2 separate regions of the Homo sapiens genome follow, and region 1 is linked to region 2. Evidence: fine-mapped expression QTL. Tissue or cell type: thyroid. Region 2 holds a variant in brackets; the other region holds the start of a gene. All regions are shown on one strand. Distances are from middle to middle.

Region 1 (8,043 bases), 36 kb before region 2:
TACTGTAGCCTCAATATCTCAGGCTTAATGTGGTCCTTCCACCTCAGCCTCCCAACTAACCAAGACTACAGGAGCATGCTACCATGTCAAGCTAATTTAAAAAACTTTTTTTTTTTCTTTGAGATGAAGTCTCACTCTTGTCCCCCAGGCTGGAGTGCAATGGCACAATCTCGGCTCACTGCAACCTCTGCTTTCCGGGTTCAAGCGATTTCCCTGCTTCAGCCTCCCAAGTAGCTGGGATTACAGGCGCCCGCCACCACACCCGGCTAATTTTTGTATCTTTAGTAGAGACGGGGTTTTACCATGTTGGCCAGGCTAGTCTCGAACTCCTGACCTCAGGTGATCCACCCACCTTGGCTTCCCAAAGTGTTGGGATTACAGGCATGAGCCACCGCGCCAGTCAGGGGAGGCTCTTTGTTAAGAAAGAAGACTCCATATTGTAAACTTCCACAGGACTAACAGCATGGATGATAACGTGATTAACAGGATTATCATGGAGGTGACATAAGATGGCTCAGGAGCCAGGCTGATGGGTTTAGGTCCTGGCTGTGGTAGATGTCACAACACAGTGCCCTTCCCATACCCCTTTAGCCACTCCTGATGTTTTTTTACTATAAGCCCCTGGGATTTTCTGCCTGAGGGTGCTCTCTGCTCAGAAGGCACTCCGGCAGGCTGGAGGTGCCAGGAACAGCTCTCAACTAATGAAGAAATCATCAGTGTCATCACTCCTTCAGTGGGATGAGTACCTTGTCTTCTTCACTCTCCCAGAGATGCCCAATACAGTCAAGCCCCATTTGTCCACAGTGGTAATCTGCTGATTATTGCACCCTATATTGCTTTTCTTCATTTGTTTGTTTCACTCCCCCTCTCTCCTACTAGTGCTCCACGGAATCATCTCTCAAATGGACCATTTATATGAACATCCTTATCTCAGTGTCTGCCTCTGGGGATACCCAGCCTAAAGATAGTGGTTCTTTTATTTCTTAGATCTATCCATCCAATTTCCTTGGGCAGATCACTTTACCTCTCTGAATTTCACTTGGCTCATCTATAGAATATGGATAGTATCACTTCTTTCTTTCTTTCTTTTTTTTTTTTTTTGAGACCGAGTCTCGCTCTGTCGCCCAGGCTGGAGTGCAGTGGCGGGATCTCGGCTCACTGCAAGCTCCGCCTCCTGGGTTCATGCCATTCTCCTGCCTCAGCCTCCCAGCAGCTGGGACTACAGGCACACGCTCTCATGCTCGGCTAATTTTTTGTATTTTCAGTAGAGACCGGGTTTCACCGTATTAGCCAGGATGGTCTCGATCTCTTGACCTTGTGATTCACCCGCCTTGGCCTCCCAAAGTGCTGGGATTAGAGGTGTGAGCCACTGCGCCCGGCCCAATAGCACTTATTTCTTAGGATGGTCATGCAGTTTAGCATTTCACTCAGACATTAAAAGTTCAGTAAATACTTCTATTTTTATTCGTTTACTGGCCTGTAACATAAATATTCTCCCAGAGACTCTTGGATGGACATGCCTCATTCAGGCATAGCTAGGCAGGGAAAGATAAGCAGCCTGGAGCTGGCCCTGTGGGACATTGATTGATTGGGTTCCTGTTCCCAGTTACTTGCTCCCTCTGCAATGGGATTAAATGTCCCCACCATTTGTCATGTGACTTATCTGGCATCCTGTATGGGTAGCATACCTCCCTGACCCCCATGAATTAATTTTGGGCTTACCCATGTGACTTGCTTTGAGTAATGGCATATGAGCAGATGTGACATTCTCCACATCTGCAAAGAAGCTTGAAATGTGTTACTGCATGGTTTGGCACAGGCTCTCTCACCCCTGCCCTCCACTACAACAAAGACATGTCTCCAGTGCCTGCCACGCAGTTTGAGCTAGCACCTTTAAATACTTTATTTATTTATTTTTTTGAGAGGAAGTCTTGGTCTGTCGCCTAGGCTGGAGTGCAGTGGCGTCATCTAGGCTCACTGCAACCTCCACCTCCTGGGTTCAAGGGATTCTTGTGCCTCAGCCTCCTGAGTAGCTGGGATTACAGGTGCACACCACCATGGCTGGCTATTTCTGTATTTTTAGCAGAGATGAAGTTTCACCATGTTGGCCAGGCTGGTCTCGAACTCCTGACCTCAAGTGATTCGCCTGCCTTGGCCTCCCAAAGTGCTGGGATTATAGGCGTGACCCACCGTGCCTGGCTTAAATACTTTATTTTTAATTTTTAAAAATTGTTTTATCCATCTATTTACAGATCATTAAATACTTACTGTGTACCAGGCAGTCCCATATGTTACATGTGTCTGCATGTATTAATTCATTTCATCCTTGCAGGAACCCTAAGACACGGGTCCCATTATCACCATCCTTATTTTACATATGTGGAAAACTAAGGTTCAGTGAGGATTAGTACCTTCTCAAATTCACACTGCAGGGAAGGGGCAAGGTCTGCCTTCTAGGTTGATATTCTTAACCACTGCTGTATGCTTCTTCTCATGGTAGGTAACCAGCAAATGCCTATTAAGTAAACGTTTGTTTAAGTGATCATTGTTCCCTTCCATTTACCTGAATAGGAAAGGTACAATCTACTGGGACAAAGGTGGGCTTCTGACTTTGGACCTGCTCACTCTTCCTACGTTAGTTGTTTATCAAATAGGAGACCCTTCTGATTCTTCTGAGTGGAGAAAAATTGTCCGTGGTCATCAGACGGGAACCCCAATATTTCCCTTGTAGGACCTACATGAACCACAAGATATCTCCTATAAATTCCATGTGGTTTCCAGACATCTTCCTTGTGGATCCCAGTGTGGACCTCAGATCTCTCTCCTAAAGGCCTATGTGAACCCCTATATCTTTCCTGAGGCCCACATGGACTCCCAACATTTTCCCTGTAGCAGCCACACTTGATAACTTCGACAGGTTCCCAGTTGTCATCTCATTGGCTGCTCTCCACAGCTCTGTAAATCAGCCTTGGCTTGCATTATAGCAGGGAGAGACAGCATGTGGGTCAACCAGGGACAGGACTGACACAGAACCCAGTTGTCCTGCCCCGAAGCCCAGGACCCTTCCTTCCTGGTTGGCCTGGTGGCAGGATGATGCTTCCTGCTCAGCCCTTCCCAGGCACCGAGGCTCTCTCCCTCCTTTTCCCCTCTGCCACACTAGTTCTTGTCTGCCTTTTTTCACTGCCACCCCCTTTTCATGCCAGCTGTGGGAGTGAGGCCCCACTCCTGGCAGGATGGAGCCAGACAATGGGCCCTTATTCTAGGCAAAGAATCCCTGCAGTGTCTCCCACCCACTGAGGCCCCCTTCCAGGCCTAGGATGGTGTGGGTGGGGGGTGGAGGGTGGGTGTATGGTGTAGGGGAAGGAGCAATTGGCTGGCAGGACAGACAGTGGCCCTGGCCCTGCCTGTAGAGATCCCACGGAGGTTTACTATGTAAACACCAATCACAATAAAATCCTGTCTTCACTCCCAGCCCATCTCTCCAAGTGGGTCTCTCTCAACCCTCCAAAGCTCTGGGTTTTTAAACATTTACCCTTGCCTCTACTCTCTCTTGGTATTCATCTCTGCATATCACTGTCTCTTTCATTCCTTTTTCTGAGTCTCTTTCTTTTTCTAAGCCTCTCCTCTCTCTCTCTCTCTCTCTCTGCTCCTTTGCGTAATTTGTCTCTATTTCTTGCCTCTTTCTTGCTTCATTATGCTCCCTTACCTATCTTATCTTTCCATGTCTTTTTTCTCTCCAGGCCTTGAGCTCTCATCTCAGTCTCTCTCTCCGTGTGTCTCTGTCTCTGTTTGCAGCTCTTCTTTCTCGTCCTCCTATGTCGTCTTTCCGTGGATCTGTGTCCTTGCCTCTCTGAATATCATCTCCGATCTTCCGTCCTCTGTTCTCTCTTTCCCCCTGCGCCTGCAGATCTGAAGGACCTTCCGCAGTCACCACACTCTCCTGCTTTCAGCTCTTTCTCACTCCTTTCTGGCACGTCCCAGAGGCTCCTGGCATAGGTATAGGAGGTTATTCTCCCCAGTTTACAGATATGGAAGCTGAGGCTCTGGCTGCTGGTGCCAGGCTCCCATCTCTGGGTCTCTTCCTTCCACCTACACGCCAGGCTCTTGTCCCTGAGGTGCCCGTCAACCACCTGATCCGGCCGGGGCCCGGGAACTAGCACCTCGGACAGCTCCTGGAAGATGCCGGGGCGGCCGGGTCGTCCTTCTCGCGAGCTCAGGAGGAGCAGCCTTAGGAGCAGAGCGGAAGTCTCGCGAGAGTGACTGCTGCAGGCAGTGGCGGCGCGGGCGCGCGCAGAGACGGCCTCGGGCGCGCGCGCGCGCGCGCGCGCTCCCCGCCCCCAGCCCCGGAGCGGCTCGCGGCCGGCTCCGCGCCGCATCGCTCGGGTGCAGCGCAGCTCAGCGCAGCGCTGCGGCCTTTCGGCAGCCGAACGGCCGCGGCAGGTGAGTCTGGGCATGAAGGCTGGGAGGAGAGCTTTGAAGGGAAGCTGGGCGCGGGGCGAGAGGTGTGGGGGTCGCTGGCTGCAGCTTTGTTCCTCCTACACTTCACCTTTGGATGCAGGAAGAAGGCCGAACTGCTGGAGAGGTGGGAGTGGAGGTGACCTTTACTGTTTGGGGCTGGGGGAGAGCGCTCAGGGCGCACCCAGGCCCCCCGAGCCCCCCAAGCCCCCCCATTCCCATCTGTGGCTCCCGCAGAGGGAACTGGGCCTTTGGGTGACGTCAGACCCTGGATCTGGAGCCTGAGCTTTGGGCCCTCCATCCCCCCCGCCAGCCCCACCTGGCGTTCCCTGGAAACCGGCCTTCTGGAGATGGCGTGCGCAGCCGGGGATGGGGGCGACTGGAAGGGGGTGCCCGTGGCTTCCTTTGGGCCTTTCCTTCCAACTAGCGCCTGCAGGTGGACCCGGGTTGACTTCCCTCACCTCCCTCGGGCGGCCGACCTTTGGATGGCGGACCTCAGCCGCCCCAGGGTTGCGAGGCGACGGGCGCGCTGGCCCAGGCCACCAGGCGGGCTCCATCAGGGCTTTGGGTGGTGAGTTGGGGGCGCCGGATTTGGCTCATTTCAACGCTGGCCGGAGGTCACGAGGATGGAGGTGAGGTGTTTGTGAACCGATCCTTGTCCTCCGCCTCGGGGAGCTCCTGGTCTGTGGGTTGGGGGAACCAAGTAGAGACTCGGACTGAGCATTCACTGTCACAGGCGGCTTAAACAAGTAATGTCCCAGCTTCCCGATGGGGAGATCAGTGAGGGCCTGGCAGACTTTCCCAGGGACACAGAGAGAAAGGGAGGCGACAGCTAGCGAATAGGAGACTTCCAGAGGTGATGGGATTTGGGTGGGAGGAGAGGCAAGAGAGGGCATTCCAGGAGAATGTATGGGCAAAGGCACAGGGATGAAAACGAGCACAGCTGTTGGGGGCTGAGCCTGGGAGCTCAGCCATGTGACTGCCCATGGGGTGGTGGAGTCTGGAGAAATTTGCAACCTGTCCCCTACATGTTCTGCCTCACGGAGCAGGGCTCTGAAAGAGGGAGATGGTTCTTGCAGGGGCATGATTGGCAGAGAGATTTTGTTTGGGGCTACACAGGTCTTGCTAACTTAGGTTTGTTCTGGGCTTGGTGAGCCTTAGGGCAAAGTCTCTAGAGCTGAGAGGGGGCTGTCTCTGGTGAATGGGCCCCTGAAAGAGGGTCTTAGGTTTAGCAAACCCCTTGGAGAGTTAGTGGGGTCCCAGGAGGGGAGTTCTAGAGAGAGACCTTGGGCTCTGTGGCTGTTTCTTTAACCGTTTCCTGAGTGGCCACCTCCAAGCAAGTTCCCCAAGTCACCTCCCCTCTCTGGGCATCTCTTTCTAGCACCTTTCTCTAGAGATGAAATAATAGGACTAAGTAGTGACCTCCCTTGAGGATGCTCCTTGTTCTAGTTTAGAGCATCCCCCCTTTCTTCTCCCTCTTCCTTTTCCTTTCCTCCCCTATCCCTCTGCCTCCCTGTCCCTATCCCCACCCCTTGCCCCCCACAGCATTTCCTTTACAGGCTGCACTTCCTTCCCTGCTGCCAGCCAGGAGTTTCGGAAGGTTTCCTGGAGGAAGTGTGATACAGCAGGTTTGACAGCAGCTTTGGGCTTAATCTGATTGGGGGAGGGCGTTAATTGCCTCCCTCCCACCCATTGGGAAAGTGTCCAAGTCTTAAGCAAGTATATGGATTGACTGTGCTCTGTGCTGGGTCCCTCCTGGAAACTCCATCCAGGAGGGAGTGAGGAGATTATGGGAGAAGACGTGAACACTTAGTGCCCAATGACTGACTCAAAATGTATGCAGCGGGATGCAGAGCAGCGATTTTTGGAAAGGCTTCCCAGAAGGGGTGGGATGTGAGAAGGTAGCAGGACTTAGAGGAGCTGATAGTGCTGCCAATTTAGGGGCACTGGAAGCAGAGGGGGCGGCTAGAGATGATCTCCTGCATGAGGCTGGGAGTGTAGGAGGCAGGTCAACCTGTGAGCAGCCAAAGGTGGTGGGAGGGAGGTTTGTAGCTGACTGGCACAAAGCCTTGAATGCCAGGCAAAGATCTGTAGGAGGCTACTGAATAGTCATCAGTAGGACAGGGACAGCATGGCCAGGAGACTGCTGTTTTCTGAGGATTATTCATAGTTCTGGGATTTCAGGGCAGAAGATGGGGCTAGGAGTGGGATGAGGGGATTGGAGGTAGAGCAGGAGGGGGAAACTTCCATCTTAGCAGGTTGGCTCTGGGCAGCAAAAAGGAATCACCATTTCTGTGCCAGGGATGAGGGGCCCATACTGGTGAGCAGGGAGCCCTGGAGTTAGCCCCAGGACTCTGGCCTGATCTGAAGCCAGGCTTGACCCTCGTCTGCTGCCAGAGGCCTCAGTCTCCCCACTGTGGGGGCTTCTGTCCTAGCTTCACAATAAGGAATGGAATACATTATAGTTAGGGTTTCATGAACAAAATTCAGGTAGTAACTGCTATCTTATTGATAATTAAGGTGTTTCCCTAGGCCTACATCTTTGGAGGGATATGTAGCCCTTATCCCCATTATAAAAGATTATCAGTTGAGCAGATTGCTAATTCTTCTGTTTTGTAGTCTAAGAACTTTGGTTTGGCCGGCGCGGTGGCTCATGCCTGTAATCCCAGCACTTGGGGAGGCCGAGGCGGGTGGATCACCTGAGGTCAGGAGTTCGAGACCAGCCTGGCCAACATGGTGAAACCGTGTCTCTAGTAAAAATACAAAAATTAGCCAGGCATGGTGGTGCACGCCTGTAATCCCAGTTACTAGGGAAGCTGAGGCAGGAGAATAGTTCGAACTTGGGTGGAGGAGGTTGTAGTTAGCTGAGATCGTGCCACTGCACTCCAGCCTGGGCAACAGAGTGAAACTCCATCTCAAAAAAAAAAAAAAAAAGAACTTTGGTTTGCAGAGGCCAGTGATTGCTGTCTTCCCCTCCAACCCCCCACCCCCCATTTCAAAGGCTTCCCAGAAACAAGGGCAGAGAAGCCTGGAGCCTTCCATTTCTGTGACCCTAGTCTTTTACCACCCTCTCAAGCCCCAGATTCTCTCTGCCCTAACCTTTATATACAAACAAGGCAGCTTTGCCCTCTGCTCTGGTTTCTGCTCTGAATTATTCATACTTTGCTGCACTGACTTCTCTGGAACTGTAAGCAGACTTTTGGGAGATTGTCTGGGACCAGGGACAGGGGTTAGGCTGGAGCCCGGTTAGGGAGAAGACTCCTCCTTTGAGGCCCCTATGTTCTAGTTGTTTTCTCCTCTCCCTCTGCTTCCTTGTTTTCCTGGAGGTCTTTAGTGCTGGACCACAGTCTCCCACTCCATGTCCCATTGTCTCAGGGGAGGTAGTGCCTCTTTCAGTCACCATTTTAACCAACTACATCTGAATGTGGTCCTCATTGGCATGTGGCCACCTCTGAAATCTTAAACTCTAGTATTTCTCTCTGACCACAGTCTAACTAATGCTTTATGTGCTCTGACCTCAAGGAGACCTCTAGTTCTCAGACACCTCCATTTTCTCCATCTCATGAATTGCCTCTTCCGTGTTCTTTC
Region 2 (8,043 bases):
GGACTGATCTCAAATAATTTCAGACAGGTGTCATTCCTGTCTTCTCAAACTCAACCTACAGATTCCCCAGAGGCAGCTACTGTGTTTTCCACAATTCCTTTGCATGGTGTTCTTTGTAATCGGTCCTCAGTGATGGTTGCTGATGAAGCACGTTCTGCTGGCCCAACCCGCCACGTGTAGGTTTTGGTGTCCATCAGCCATATTATCATGAGTGCACACTTCTAGCAACGTCTGAGAGCCAGAGGAAGAAGCAAACCAGCTAATCTCCTGGGGTGGCCTGCATCCCCTTTATGCTGGTTTCTTCCTGGGCTTTGATTTGTACGGTGGTGCCCATCTTGATTAACAGGGACAGGGACAGAGAGGCAAATCTCTTGGCTCCCTGGAGCACCCAAACCTCCCTGTTGCCCAGGGTTCCACCTCATGAGCATCTTTGGAACCCATCCCTTCCTGCCGCTTCCTTTCACCAGTCAGCCCAGTCCACCGCAGCAGCTCCTCTCGCCCTCCAGTCTCTCCACTAACAGGGTCCCTTTGACACTGTCACCAGGTGCCAGCACCGTCTTTCTAAAACCAAAACTCCTCACCCTGGCCCTCGCTGCCCACGGCATTCTGGCCTCACCCTGACTTTCAGTCTCACTTTCTGCCCCTCTACCACCCCCCATCACAGTCCGGCCTCACTAGTAAGCCACTCCCTGTTCCCCAACCTGCCACCCTCCTCAGGACCTTCACCTTGGCAAGATTGTTCCTTCCTTTGAAGTGATTTCTTCCTGTCTCTGAAAAACTAACTCATCCTTCAGGACTCAACCCCAATGTCATTTTTTCTGGGATGCAATCTCTGACTTCTAGAGATGGTCACCCTGAGCAGCCACGCACCTGGTACAGCCCTTCCCCACAGCACTGCATCATTCCCTTGTGACTGGCCCATGTGTGGGGAAGGTGTCTCACTTTCTTATCAAACTGTGTGCTCCCTGAAGCCAGGACTGCTGATCCCTTCCGCTGCCTCAGCCTCTGGCCTGGGGCCTAATACGTGGTGCTCCATACATTCTGGTCGACTGTATGAATGAAGGGGGTGGCCCTTGTTCTCCTTTTAGATCCTAAATCCCGACAGCTTTATAGAGCCCAGGCCTGGCAGGCTCCCAGAACTTGAAGCCACCAGACCCCACATGGAACCAAAGGCCTCCTGTCCAGCTGCTGCACCCTTGATGGAGAGAAAATTCCATGTTCTTGTGGGTGTCACGGGGAGTGTCGCAGCCCTGAAGTTGCCTCTTCTGGTGTCAAAGCTTTTGGACATTCCTGGGGTGAGTATCCTCACCAGATAAGCATGGCAGCCTCCGGCATGGGAGGCCGGTGCTCCCGGGGATGGCCCATTGCTCTGCAGTACATGCAATTTTCTTTTTCTTTATCATGTTAATCATGCTTGTGGAGGTCCTGTGTGTGTGGTGCTCTGTGGAGGATTCAGGAGACAGAGACCAGTGCCCAGTGTAACCAGGGGCTAGATTAGATAGTACAGACAGGGCATGAGGGGAGACTGGGAAAGGACCCAGTGAACGGAGGGTTTGGGCTCCCATACATTAACCCTGAGAATCCGTGAAGTCCTGTGTGGGAGGAGGGCTGGCTGGAGAAGTGCAGCAAGTTCTCAGTATCCCCTCCTGCCTTGGGCTTCCCCATCCCTGCTTTCATTCCGCCTTGAACACTGCGGCTGTGTTCTCCCTCCTCGTGAGACCTCATGGTTGTCTTGTCAGTCAAATGCTCTGAAACCCCATTGTCTGAAGCTCTAGGTTCAAACTTTGCTCCTTCAGGTGTTCAGAGCTGCCCCAGGGGCCCCCGACTGTGTGCTGGGGTGAGGGACTCTAGCCCCCGTCCTTGGCCAGACCCTCAACTTGGATCTATTTTCTATATTGGGGTTCTGGTGCAGAAGTTCAAGGCTTTAAACAGCGTGAAATCTAACAGGGAGTGGCCCCACTTCCTAGTTCCACCTCCAGGGCCCTTAGTTGGTCTGTCTTATCCCCCTTGGTCTTTGCGTGGCTGGGCCCTGCTAGGCTGGCTGCCCTCTCTGCTCCTCTCTCGCCTTTTCACATTCTGTGCAAAGCCTTCCCTGTCTGCCCCAGCCCAGCCCCTGTGGTTTTGGCCCCTTCTTTTAAACTTATTTGACATAGAACTATAGGTTGCCTTAGACACTGCTGGTGTTACTGGCCCCTAGTTTTTGGTGGGGTCTTGTGAAGTTGCTGGGCCCCAGGCCTGGCTTTTCCCTCTTGTTATCAGCTGAGCACCCAAGGTGCAGTGGCCGTATCTGGCATGTCCAGCAGGGGGCGGTGCTTACTCACAGATGACCACGTGGTCACATCAGCTGGGGCTGGGCTGGGAAGTGTTTCACTTTTTTACTTTCCACCAACTTCCACCCAGAAAGTCACCCCATCACCCCACCCCCAGGGCTGGGATAAGCCATGAAGCTGCCAGCCAGGGATGACAGCCAGGCCAGAGTGGGGGAGGGAGGAGAGTCTCGTGGCACTCTGACACTGGGTGCTGCACTTTTAGGGCAGTGCTGCTTAGGCCCAGCCACCCGCTGTGTACCCAGAAGCATTGGTAGGAGCTGCCCAGCTAGAGCCGTGAGGGTGGGAGGCCTCTGCCACCACCCCCTGGGGAGGGAGGGAGCCATGCAGTTCCCTTTTCCCATAGCCCCAGGGCAAGTGAGTTTCCGGACTAGGGGTGGATAGGGGCGGGGAGTCCTATCCCAGGAAACAGATGGGCAGCCTCAGAGCGGAGGGAAATGGCAACCCTACCGCTTCCTCCCATCCCACGCAGCCAGCGTTTGGTGGGAGGGGGGTTGTGAGGAAAGGGTTGCCTGGAGCAGGGAGGTGCTCCAGCCCACCCCAGGGCCTTTTAGCCTGGGCCCCATGGGATGGCAGGCCATGTCTGGAACAGGACTTGGCTTCCCCTCTCTGGTTGGAGTTGATGCCAAAAGTGAGGCAGCCAGAGGGCACTGAACTGGGAGGGAGGGCTCCCCGACTCAGCCTCTTGGAGCTTGCCTTTCCCATTTGAAAATAGGGCTGATTCCTGCTGCCCATCCCCCAGACTCTTGTCAGGCTCCCTGAGATGTTGGCTGGGGTGGGAGGGGTCACAGATGAAAATGGTCCTGTGCCAGTGACTCAGCACAGAGCCTGGCATGTTGAAGCACTCGGTTGTGTGTGTTTCCTGGCCATCACCCTGTCCTTTCCCCTTGTTCATGTCCTTTGGGCCAGCCACATGGTGTGGGGCAACCCCACTGGGAAGAGCCATGGAAGCCACAGTTCACCTGCTCTTGTGGAGGGCCCATGCCTTTCATCTGCAGGGAGACAGCTCTCCAAGCCTGGCCTTGCTTATTAGGGCCCTCGTGAGGTGTTGGGATCCAAAGGTAATCCCTGGATTGCCTTGTGTTGGCCCCAGTGGTGGCGTCTATCCCTGCACACTCCCCTTCACTCCCTGATGGCCCTGATCTCCACATTGCCTCCTGCTGGATCTCCTGCAGGAGCATCATTGTCCCTTGGAGCAGTCACTTTCAGCTCTTCACCTGCTGAGTCGTGGGTTCAGGTGCTCAAGGCTTTCCGGAACTTCCTTAGGTACATCCAGATTTTGTCTAGCACATGAACAGCTGGGGTGTGGGCTGCAGGGAGCTGGGGGATTCTACAGATCTGGCCCATCACTGTTCCTGATTGACCAGTATGTCCAGACATCCCGGGAAAGCCGCTAATGTCAAGGTAGCCAAATCAGGGAGACTGTGAGGGGTGGTGGAGAGACATGGATTAGCCACAAGCCACACACACCAGCAGTCAGGGAGAGTAGTCACTAGCAGAGATGACCTTGAGTATGTTGGGGCAGGTGGGCAACCGTGTCACAAGAGAGGCAGCTGAGCACATTTCTGACGCTGGGACCCTGGGCAAGTCCGTTCTTTTTGGCCATAATTTTCTTATCCACACAGTGAAGGAGGGGCAGGTTCTCAAATGATCCATCTCCAGGGCCTCTTCTGGCACTGGTGTTAGAAGATTCTAGATGTGAGGGCAAAAAGGACTAGGACCCAAAGGCAGCCTGAGAGAAGGTCCTGGGGCTCAGGAGCTTCAGGATGCCGGGGGTTTTGTAGTTCCGTAGTTGTCATGTAATTGAGTGGCAGTAAAATCCGGGTTGTCAGCTCAGGCAGTTTCTTCCCTGGGGTTGGCAGCCTGGCCCATGCAGGGGAGCAAAAATGGCTTTCCTCCATCTTGCTAGGCTGCTTGGCTGGGCTATGAGTTCAACTGACTTATAAACAAAATTAACAGGGCCGGGC[G/A]CGGTGGCTCACTTTGGGAGGCTGAGGCGGGCGGATCACTTGAGGCCAGTTCGAGACCACCCTAGCCAACATGGTAAAACCCCAGCTCTACTAAAAATACAAAAATTACCCGGTTGTGGTGGGCGCCTATAATCCCAGTTACTCAGGAGGCGGAGGCAGGAGAATCGCTTGAACCCAGAAGGCAGAGGTTGCAGTGAGCTGAGATCATGCCACTGCACTCCAGTCTGGGTAACAGAGCAAGACTCCATCTCAAAACAATAACAACAAAAAACAAGATCAACAGGAGAAAACCATATTTAGTTACATATCTGCACATGGGTGTACCACAAAATATGAGATTCCCAGAAGGGTGAGATGGCTGAAGCCTGTATAGCAGCCTGAGCTACAGAAGGAAATAGGGGCTTGGGGCTTCTGGGGGTGGTGGCGACACAAGTTATGGGAGGGTGAGGGGAGGAATTATACGGTCTTGTTAGGCAGATAAAAACCTCTCAGATAATAAAAGATGCCTCAGCAGATTGTCAATAAGTCAGTCTTCCTTTCTCAGGGAGGGGGACTCAGGACAAGGGGAATCCCTCTTTAGGCAGATAAGAGAAGTTCAGAGAAAGTTCCTCCCTGCATTTGTTTTTCCCCCAGTGCCTTCAGGTTTGAAATAATCAGCATACCAAAGCCGCATATTATGGGGTGGCATTTCCTGAACTCCTTCATCCACACCCTTCAAACTTGGGAGGAGAAGACAGACATCGCCCTAGCTTTTGCCAGGGCAGGTGTCAGCAGAATTCAGAGCCAAAAGGGGATTTCTAAAGATAGAGAAAACCCCCAACTCAAGGAGTCAGCAGGCCTCGGGCTCAGAGAAGGATACATTTCTAGGGTGTCTGTCAGGACATCCAGGTCTGTCGAGGGTGAGGAAAAGAAGGCTCTGCTCATATGCAGTGTGGAGTAAATTCTGACTTTCTGGAGGACCACTTGACAATATTGAGAGAAATTAAAACATCTTCATAGTCCTTGATTTACCCACAGGATTAAACTCTGTGGGGTGTATTTACAAAGTGAAAGGATGTCCATTATAGCATTATTTATAATTTCAAAGCAAAACTGGAAGCAAACAAAATATCCAGCAGTAGAGAGCTGTGGTGCCCTTATGATTTATGGGACAATCTCTCAGTGGATTACTTGGCAATGATTCAGAAAAATGGGGTGGCTCTCTCTGTGCTGAAGGGAGCAATCATCAAGATGGAAGCGGAATAAGCAGGGTGTAGGAGCTAGCAAACTGGACCCCCCCCCCCAAGGCCAAATTCGGCTCTGCCTGTTTTTGTATAGCCTACAGCTAAGAATGATTTTTACATTTTAATTTTTATTATTTATTTTTGAGACAGGGTCTTGTTCTGTTGCTCAGGCTGGAGTGCAGTGGTGTGATCACTGCTCACTGTAGCCTTGACCTCCCAGGCTCAAGCAGTCCTCCCACCTCAGCCTCCCAAATAGTTGGGACTGCAGGCGTGCCATCACACTCTGCTAATTTTTTTGCATTCTTTTTGTAGATACAGGATTTTGCTATGTTGCCCAGGCTGGTCTCAAACTCCTGGGCTCAAGTGATCTGTCTGCCTCCACCTCCCAAAGTGCTGGGATTACAAGCATGTGCCACTGTGCCTGGCCTGATTTTTACATTTTTAAATGATTAAGTCAAAAGAAAAATAGTATTTTATGACTCGGAAAAAAAGTGATATGAAATTCAGATTTCATGTCCAAGACAATTTATTGGAACACAGCCATACCCATTCATTTACGTATTGCCTATGGCTGCATTCGTGCTACTACAGAGTTAAATCATTACGACAAAGCCTAAAATATCATCTGGCCCTTTATAGAGAAGGTTTGCCGACCCCTGGTATGCAGCCTGATTCCTTCTGTGTGTTCTTATACTGAGTTACTGCACACAGTTTTTTCCTCTGGAGGTGGTTACCCTTGTGAAGGGGGACCAGTGGAGGAAGGGAAACTTGCATTTTTCATTTTTGTATCATTCTGTTCAGTTTTAATTTGTAACCTATGTGTATATTTGTGTGTGTGTGTTTTTTTGTTTGTTTGTTTGTTTTAAGTCAGTGGGGCTTTTGGTGGGAATATTGGGGAACATTCTTGATAAGTTTGTGCTTTTTTTTTTTAAAGTGCTCACTGAGGAAAGAGCAGAAGACATAAGGCCTGGTTTGAGGATTTCTCTTTTTTTCTGGGTGGGGGCCACCTGCCCGCTCTGTGTCCTGATGTGGAAACTCTGAGACCTTTATTTGTGCCTCTGCCTGCTTGGCTGGCCCCTTCCTCCTCTGGCCTGCAGCCCTGTCACCTGCTCCTCTAGGGACAGAGCTCTGTCGGCCTCTGGGCAGAGGGTCCCGCACCCCAGGGTCCTTCCCTGATTGCCCAGAACAACGTTCCTGTGCAGAGCCTCCCTAGACCACCTCCCTGGTTTCCTTCTTGAGAATTTTCTGAAGTTGGGGAAGCACACAGAAGGGTTGGCATGAGGAGCTGACACAACCAGAACACCAGCTCCCCCAGGGGCAGATGAGAGCACGACTGTTTCCTGCAGAGCCAGGTGGGAAAGGTCAGGGTCACAGAAGGGCTGGGGTGGTACGGTGAGCTAGATGGAGCCCTACCATGTGGTCTAAATGGCCCATGCATGGGTCATAAGGGGAAACCAGGCACAGAGGAAGAGGGTCTCGCCCACGGCCTTCCAGGGAGTGAGTGAGTTAGCAGAACTGGGGGCTTGAGGCCAGGTTTCCTGGGTCCTATCAGTGAGTGAATTGAAGAGCTCAGACCTGGAGCTCATTCTCTGCTCAAGCTCACCAATGCTTGAGGATGGTGGAATTTGTGGATTCCTATCTTGGTCTGCCTTGCAGTTAGGGGTTACCTGTACCCCACCTATCTGTTAGACTGAGCCCTAGGAGAGGCCAGAGCTTGGATCTTATCAGCCCTGCCCCCACCATATAAGAGGCTTAGTAAATGTTTGCCGAGTAGAGGCATCATCATGAGCCATGGAACCCACTGAGCCAACCGGAACTCCCTTGGGGGTTTTGTTAAGGAGGCCACCTCCTTCACAGCTCCCGCGCCTCATGTGCCAACCGCACTGGGCCCCAAGAATCCTTTGTCCTAGAATGTACCCACCAACTCCCCTGCTCAGGTTAGTGTCAGCTTCTTAGCTGGCCGCTAGGACCTGGGCACAGATCTGGAGCATGCCATCGTCAACACTGGTAGACCCAATGTCAGAGTCCTCTGCTGTGCGTCCTGGCCCAGAGGACTGGGCCACCAAAGCCCTGGGTTCCTTGTCTTGTCACAGATTAAGTGCGGGGCTACCACTTCCTCTTTAGAATCCTCCTTGGTCTCCAGTGGAGGCATCATCACGCCCTACTAGAAACGCCTGCTCTCCAGCCACTCAGCTGCTAGTTCCAGTTGGGCTCTTCTCCTTTTCTTGTATATGCCAGAGCTGTGCTATCTGATATATTTAAATTTTCTTGTATATTCCAGAGCTGTGCTATCCGATAAATGTAAATTTGAATGTGGCAGCCGCTTGCCACATTCAAATTTAAATTTAAATTAATTAGAATTTAATAAAAAATTCAGTTCTTCAGTCACAGCAGTCACACCTCAGATGCTCAGTGGCCACATGTGGCCAGTGCTGCCACACCCTACGGCACAGGTAGGGCCGTTCCCATCATTGCAGAGATGGAAATGCTCTTCACGGATAATGCTGTAGAGTTGTGGTTCTCAAC

What was found. PIP is the estimated chance that this variant, and not a neighbour inherited with it, causes the effect.
Region 1: SCAMP5 starts here. The variant in region 2 is fine-mapped to the expression of SCAMP5 in thyroid (GTEx, PIP above 0.99).

The regions. Positions count from the first base shown.
Region 1 is chr15:74,991,234-74,999,276 of GRCh38, forward strand. SCAMP5 (secretory carrier membrane protein 5) reads left to right here and starts at 4,330. Exons shown (of 7, transcript NM_138967.4): 1 at 4,330-4,440.
Region 2 is chr15:75,027,159-75,035,201 of GRCh38, forward strand. PPCDC (phosphopantothenoylcysteine decarboxylase) reads left to right here. Exons shown (of 6, transcript NM_021823.5): 2 at 1,089-1,295. The coding sequence starts at 1,161. Among named protein-coding and RNA genes, the nearest start is that of PPCDC, 7.6 kb to the left of the region's middle. RefSeq lists enhancers at 2,020-2,209, 4,266-4,766 and a silencer at 6,721-6,914. The variant G/A (reference allele first, on the strand shown) is at 4,295.